Linked DNA regions of Homo sapiens. The protein of the gene in region 1 interacts with the protein of each later gene in a pairwise test. Each region holds a gene or a part of one and is shown in the gene's direction. Other genes may lie near its edges. The genes, in order: BHLHA9 and RNF125.

Region 1 (3,570 bases):
CTCGGCTCACTGCAACCTCCGCCTCCCTGGTTCAAGCGATTCTCTGCCTCAGCCTCCCGAGTAGCTGGGACTACAGGCTCCCCGCCACCACGTCCAGCTAATTGTTGTATTTTAGTAGAGACGGGGTTTCACCGTGTTGGCCAGGCTGGTCTTGAACTCCTGACCTCAAGTGATCCGCCCACCTCGGCCTCCCAAAGTACTGGGATTACAGGCGTGAGCCACTGCGCCCGGCCTCTAGCTGTTTTATAATTCGACATATATTGCAGATTTGGGGGACATAGAACCTGGGAAATACAGATGTCCTTAGGATGCTTTCATCCTAGTGGGCAAGGCAGACAATCACAGAAGTAAATACATACACTCTGCTTCCTAATGCCTTATTATTTTCTTTTATGGAGAAATTCACAGTTTGAAATAATGGGGTTATTGGCAATGCTCTTTTGGCGAGATGGATGTGAACCACACACCCATTCCAATGCCATAGGCCTTGGCATCTTAGAGGCATTTGGATTGTGACTGGGAATGAGTGGCCTTCAGGCGCTCCAAATAACTCAGCTGTGGATGCCGGAAATTCTACTGGGGGTCTTTCTTTGGGAATAAACATCATCTTTTTTCTGAGACCCTCTTTCAAATGCAAATCCCTGGGGGAAGAGGACAGAGGCTGCTCATTGAGTTCATAACCTGGCAGGGCTGTGTCACAAGATGGGGCTGCCCGAGGGCTCTGGACCCCAAAGATGCCCCTGATGTGGACCCAGGGCTGCAAAGGGATCTTCCCCGTCACCCTCTGCTGCTGACTCATCCCAGCTCTGCCTGCAGAAGGGGAGTCAAAGGGCAGTGGAGGGAGAGTCAGGCCCAACCAAAACCCGAACCCCAATTGCAGCCAGCCGCCCTCCATAGCTGAAAAAGCCGGAAGCTCTGGGTCAGCTTTACCTGCAGGGCCCTGCGCCTCCCATATGAGTCCTGCCGGGACACTCATGCTTTTCCTCAGTGACATCTCTGTGGTTGCCCACGGGACTTGACAAGAACTTTCAAGGTTTTGTTGTTGTTTTTGTTGTTGTTTTTCTGAGACGGAGTCTCGTTCTGTCTCCCAGGCTAGAGTGCAGTGGTGCGATCTCGGCTCACTGCAACCTCCAGCTCCTGGGCTCAAGCCATTCTCCTGCCTCAGCCTCCCGAGTAACTGGGATTACAGGCGCCTGCCACCACGCCCGGCTAATTTTTGTGTTTTTAGTAGACGGGGTTTTATATACTCTGTTGGCCAGGCTGGTCTCGAACTCCTGAACTCAAGTGATCCGCCCGCCTCGGCCTCCCAAACTGCTGGGATGACAGGCGTGAGCCCCAGTGCCCGGCCCTCTGCCTCTTTTTATTCCTATCAGCTCTCCTGCTAGAAGCCAAACTTAGCACCTTATCTGGGAATGGGGAGGAAGAATGTGGAACCCAGACACCCCACAGCGGCCCCAGAGCTAGGCAGGGCAAGGTCCCCGGGGCAGCGTGGCCGGGCTGCCCGTCTGGTCCCCGCTTACAAGAACCTGCAAGCTTCCCTCCTTGCTTTCCTTCTTCCCCTCGGTTCCTCCCCCGCCGACCTACCTGGAGGCCGATAATAAAGCAGGAGGAGGGAGATGGATGGACGGGAGGGCGGGGCGCCGCGTGGTGCCATAAAGCCCAGCTGGAAGGGGCCTGTCTCGGGAGTGTCCAGCCCCAGGAGCCGGGGACCGTCCGCGTCGCGAGCCGGGCCAAGGCAGTGGGCAGAGGGCAGAGGGCAGAGGGCCGGGGCTGGGGCAGAGGGCGAGTGCCCGGGAAGGCCATGCTGCGGGGCGCGCCAGGACTAGGCCTCACGGCGCGGAAGGGGGCCGAGGACTCTGCGGAGGACTTGGGGGGCCCCTGCCCCGAGCCCGGGGGCGATTCGGGGGTGCTGGGGGCGAACGGCGCTTCCTGCAGCCGGGGCGAGGCGGAGGAGCCGGCGGGCAGGAGGCGCGCGCGGCCGGTGCGGTCCAAGGCGCGGCGCATGGCCGCCAACGTGCGGGAGCGCAAGCGCATCCTAGACTACAACGAGGCCTTCAACGCGCTGCGCCGGGCGCTGCGGCACGACCTGGGCGGCAAGAGGCTCTCCAAGATCGCCACGCTGCGCAGGGCCATCCACCGCATCGCCGCGCTCTCCCTGGTCCTGCGCGCCAGCCCCGCGCCCCGCGGGCCCTGCGGACACCTGGAGTGCCACGGCCCGGCCGCGCGCGGGGACACCGGGGACACAGGCGCCAGCCCCCCGCCGCCTGCAGGGCCCAGCCTCGCGCGCCCAGACGCCGCCCGCCCCTCGGTGCCGTCCGCGCCCCGCTGCGCCTCGTGCCCCCCGCACGCGCCCCTGGCACGGCCCAGTGCGGTGGCCGAGGGGCCGGGCCTAGCACAGGCCTCCGGGGGAAGCTGGCGCCGCTGTCCGGGGGCTTCCTCTGCCGGGCCGCCTCCCTGGCCGCGGGGCTACCTGCGATCCGCCCCCGGGATGGGCCATCCGCGCTCCTGACCGGCCTCGAGGCACCGGCTGGGCTGCAGGGAGGCCGGGCTGGCAGCTGGACTATAAAACCCGGGACTGCAAAGGCGTCTTGGACAGAGCAGAACTGGACCGGCTGAGACCTGGCGTGGAAGAGAAGGAGCTCGCCAGAGAGAAGGAGCTCCGGGACCCGGGGTTGCGCCCCCACATCCCAGCCTGGGGCAGAGAGAAGGAGCTCCGGGGCCTGGGGCTGCGCCCCCACATCCCAGCCTAGGGAGGCAGTTGCCAGAAAGGCTCAGGATCCTGAACTCATCTTGGACTCGAACTCGTCTTGGAATGCCGCCTTCGCACTCCTGCGCCTCCGAGCCCTGTGTGTTCTCGATGCTTTTAGGAGAGTGAGGGCTTTGAGGCAGGAGGTGTGGGAGCGTGGGAATGCGGGTGGGGCCTGCTGTGGTCTCGTGGGCACATGAGTGCGGAGTCCCCTTCCCTGCCTGCGCTGCTGCCCAAGCCTGATCCGGGAGAGGCAGGATCCGGGAGAGGCAGGCAGGGGCAGCAGCCAAATAAAAGGAAAAACTCATTTCTCTCCGATACCACGACTCCAGTGGGCCCCGTGGCCCAGGGTGGCAGGAACGCCTGAGGGCTGGGGGCTCTCCTTGGAATGCTGGGCGGGGCCTAAGGCCCACAGGTAGGCGCCTGGGGGAACTCATTCATGGCAAGACCCCAGGTGTGGCTGAGCACTGTGGGAGCCCAAGGGGAGGAAAGAGACATCCAGAGACCCCTCCTCCCTGAGTCCCCTGGGGTGGAAGAGGATATCAGGAGAGGGGTCACGGGGCCTGGGAGTCTAAGGATGGGGTCAGCCCCGTCTCTGGACCTCCCTGCAGAGCTGCCTGGAAGCAGCCACAGTGAAGGGGGACTCTGGCCAGGTCTCAGGGAAGGAGGCCAAGGGCAGGGCTAGGATTGGGGGCCGGTAAGTCCTGCGTGCATGTACCCCGAGCGACAGGCAGGAAGAGCTCCCAGGGAACCGTGGGCCAGGGCCCCCATAATGAGGGGCCGACTTGGAACCCAGGAAGGATTCTGGGGAGGGGGTTGAGTGA
Region 2 (3,811 bases), on another chromosome or scaffold:
TTCATATGTTAAAATACATTTTAAAAAGTCAGTGATTACTTTGGAGGGGATAGAATTGTGTCTGGAGGCCGGGCACAGTGGCTCACGCCTGTAATCCCAGCACTTTGGGAGGCTGAGGCAGGTGGATCACCTGAGGTCAGGAGTTCGAGACCAGCCTGACCAACATGGTGAAACCCTGTCTCTACTAAAAACACAAAAAATTGGCCAGGCGTGGTGGTGGGTGCCAGTAATCCCAGCTACTTGGGAGGCTGAGTCAGGAGAATTGCTTGAACCCAGGAGGTGGAGGCTGCAGTGAGCTGAGATCGTGTCATTGCACTCCAGCCTGGGTGACAAGAGCAAGACTCCATCTCAAAAAAAAAAAAAAAAGAGAAGGAAACAAGAGGGGAAATTTTAGGGGCTGGCCACGCTGTTTTTGTTATAGGTACTGGTTATATGGATGTGTTCAGTTTTGAAATTTCATTCAACTATATGCTTATAAGAACTTTCCAGTATGTACAGTATACTTAAAATTTAAAAAGCCTACCTTTGGACATGTATTAATACTCCCAAATAGATATTATGTGCTGAGTAGTTTAAGAGGCATCAGGTCATGCTCATGTGTATAAATTACCCAAATGCTCATTTTTATTTCTATGTTTATGGAGTCTTCAACAACTCCTATAAATAGGTCAGAATTTTCTGGAAATGTTGATTATGTTAAGATTTCATAATGAGCACCTTTAAATAAACCAGAGAACATATTTCTTGACCAGAAAGGAAGGAAGGAAGGAAGGAAGGAAAGGAAGGAAGGAAGAAGGGAGGGAGGGAAGGAGGGAGGGGAGAGGGGAGGGAGGGAGGGGAGAGGGGAGGGGAGGGAGGAAGGGAGGGAAGGAGAAAATGGTTTTATAGGGAATTATAATGTGTCTGGTATTTTTACTTCCTTGACTTCCTGCTATTTTCTTATGTGACACACAAAACCCCACAGAAGAAAGACATATTTTCTCAAGAAATTTGAGGTAAAATCCAATTTAGACATTCTTTAAAGTATCGTTTAAACTTAGCCTATAGGAAAGCTATTTCACCCACTTTGAATTCTTACTTTTCTTGAAATGTGTGAAAGTGCATGTGGTAAGAATGTGTGATTCTAAAGAAGTCTTGCTGGGAAGGTAAGCAATTCTCGGGAAGTGCAGGGTGCAAGTGGACCTGTAATTTGGTAGTATGGCTCATGGGGTACGAGGTGTCATTAAATTACAGTTTACACAAATGAATACATGGTGGTGGCTCCTTATAGCTTTCAAGGAAAGTGATGTATTTTTGGTCTGTTTGGGGTAGATTCTGCCGTTCCTGTATTGCTACCAGTCTAAAGAACAACAAGTGGACCTGTCCTTATTGCCGGGCATATCTTCCTTCAGAAGGAGTTCCAGCAACTGATGTAGCCAAAAGAATGAAATCAGAGTATAAGAACTGCGCTGAGTGTGACACCCTGGTATGTATGTGACCCCACCTATTTTCATGGTTACCAGCTTAAGTCCCTGCGAAAGTTATCATTTCACCTCTGCTTCTGACCCCATGGTACGCACCTTTTTTTTTTTTTTTTTTTTTTTTTGAGACAGGTTCTCGCTCTTTCACCCAGGTTGGAGTGCAGTGGTGCGATCTCGGCTTACTGCAACCTCCGCCTCCCAGGTTCAAGTGATTCTCCTGCCCGCAGCTTCTCGAGTAGCTGGGTCTACAGGCACCTGCCATCACGCCTGGCTAATTTTTTGTATTTTTAGTAGAGACACGGTTTCACTATGTTAGCCAGGATGGTCTCAATCTCCTGACCTCATTACCCGCCTGCCTCGGCCTCCCAAAGTGCTGGTGAGATGTGAGGCCAGCTGGACTTCCCGGGTAGAGTGGGGACTTGGGAAACCTTCCTGTCTTACAAGAGGATTGTAAAACACACCAATTAGCGCTCTGTAAAATGCACCAATCAGTGCTCTGTAAAACGCATCAATCAGTGCTCTGTAAAGTGCACCAATCAGCACTCTGTAAAACGCACCAATCAGCAGGATTCTGAAAGTAGCCAATCGCAGGGAGGATTGGAAAAACTGCACTCTGATAGGACAGAAACGGAACATGGGCGGGGACGATAAGGGAATAAAAGCTGGCCACCCCAGCTAGCAGTGACAACCGGCTTGGGTCCCCTTCCATGTTGTGGGAGCTTTGTCCTTTTGCTCTTCACAAGAAACCTTGCTACCACTCACTCTTTGGGTCCGTGCCATTTTTTTTTTTTTTTTTTTTTTTGAGACAGAGTCTTGCTCTGTCGCCCAGGCTGCAGTGTAGTGGCGCCATCTCGGCCCACTGCAAGCTCCGCCTCTCAGGTTCAAGTGATTCTAATGCCTCAGCTTCCCGAGTAGCTGGGACTACAGGCATGTGCCACAATGTCTGGCTAATTTTTTGTCTTTTTAGTAGAGAGAGGGTTTTGCTATGTTGGCCAGGCTGTTCTCAAACTCCTGGCTTCAAGTGATCTGCCCACCTTGGCCTCCAAAGTGCTGGGATTACAGGCGTGAGCCATCTCACCCAGCCTCCAATTTCATATATGTACATATATCATCTGCAGAAAACCCTGAACTTCTACCATCACCCGTAATTTGTCAAACAAATGCTTTCATTGACCACCTCCATTTTCCCTTCTTCCCATTACTCCAGTGATCCTCTATGATATGTCCTCCAGTTCTGCTACTCTGTTGCAGACCACTAATGAATAGCTTTATTATCAAACCCAGTGACATATTTCCACCTGTATTGATCTGGACTTTGCAGTATTTGTCTCTATCAAGCACACCTTGCCTGTTGCAGTTTTCAACTTGGGTACTATATCAGCTTCCCCAGATCATGTGAGGTCTTGAAGGTTATGTAGAAGATTCTAGATTTTATCTTAAATGCAATAGTAAGCCAGAGAAAGAGAGTAAGTTTTGGAGTGCCAAGATCGGGCTTATATCTTTATTTTTATTTTTATTTGAGACAGAGTCGCACTCTGTTGCCCAGGCTGGTGTGCAGTGGTGCGATCTCAGCTCACTGCAGCCTCCACCTTCTGGGTTTAAGCGATTTTCATGCCTCAGCCTCCCGAGTAGCTGGGATTACAGGGGCCCAACACCACGCCTGTCTAACTTTTGTATTTTCAGTAGAGACACAGTTTCACCATGTTGGCCAGTCTGGTCTTGAACTCCTGACCTCAGGCGATCTGCCCGCCTCGGACTCCCAAAGTGCTGGGATTACAGGCATGAGCCACCATGCCCAGCCCAGGATTGTATCTTTAAGATATCACTCTAACATACACATAGAAAATGGTTTGGAGGCCAGGCGCAGTGGCTCATGCCTGTAATCCCAGCACTTTGGGAGCCCGAGGCGGGAGGATTGCTTGAGCTCAGGAGTTCAAGACCAACCTGGGAAGAGACCTTGTCTCTACTAAAAATCAAAAAAATTAGCTGGGGCATAGTGGTATACGCCTGTAGTCCTAGATACTCCAGAGGCTGAGTAGGAAGAGCGCTTGAGCCCAGGAGATCAAGGCTGCAGTAAACTATGATCGTGCCACTGCACTCCAGCTTGGGCAACATAGCAAGACTCTCTCAACAAAAAAGAGGAGCTGGGGAGAGGATCATGTTCATGTTCATGTTAGAGGGTGGTTTTAAAGGTAAATGATAAATATATATGTGATATATATATAACTGATGATTGTCTTTTAACACAGTGTCTGGAATATAGTAAATGCTCAAAATTAATAGCTTTTTACATTCTTAATAATAGATTATTGCCTATTTTTACTTTGTCTTCACATAAAATTCATACACAA

What was found.
Region 2: the proteins of BHLHA9 (region 1) and RNF125 interact in a two-hybrid assay, tested with the Homo sapiens proteins (one large-scale study listed by BioGRID).

What each region holds. Positions count from the first base shown.
Region 1 is NC_000017.11:1,268,763-1,272,332, forward strand, and holds BHLHA9 (class A basic helix-loop-helix protein 9), read left to right. Parts: upstream 1-1,681; 5' UTR 1,682-1,801; coding exon 1,802-2,509; 3' UTR 2,510-3,053; downstream 3,054-3,570. UniProt on the Homo sapiens protein: Transcription factor, which play a role in limb development. Is an essential player in the regulatory network governing transcription of genes implicated in limb morphogenesis.
Region 2 is NC_000018.10:32,035,805-32,039,615, forward strand, and holds part of RNF125 (E3 ubiquitin-protein ligase RNF125), read left to right. Parts: intron 1-1,311; coding exon 1,312-1,465; intron 1,466-3,811. UniProt on the Homo sapiens protein: E3 ubiquitin-protein ligase that mediates ubiquitination and subsequent proteasomal degradation of target proteins, such as RIGI, MAVS/IPS1, IFIH1/MDA5, JAK1 and p53/TP53.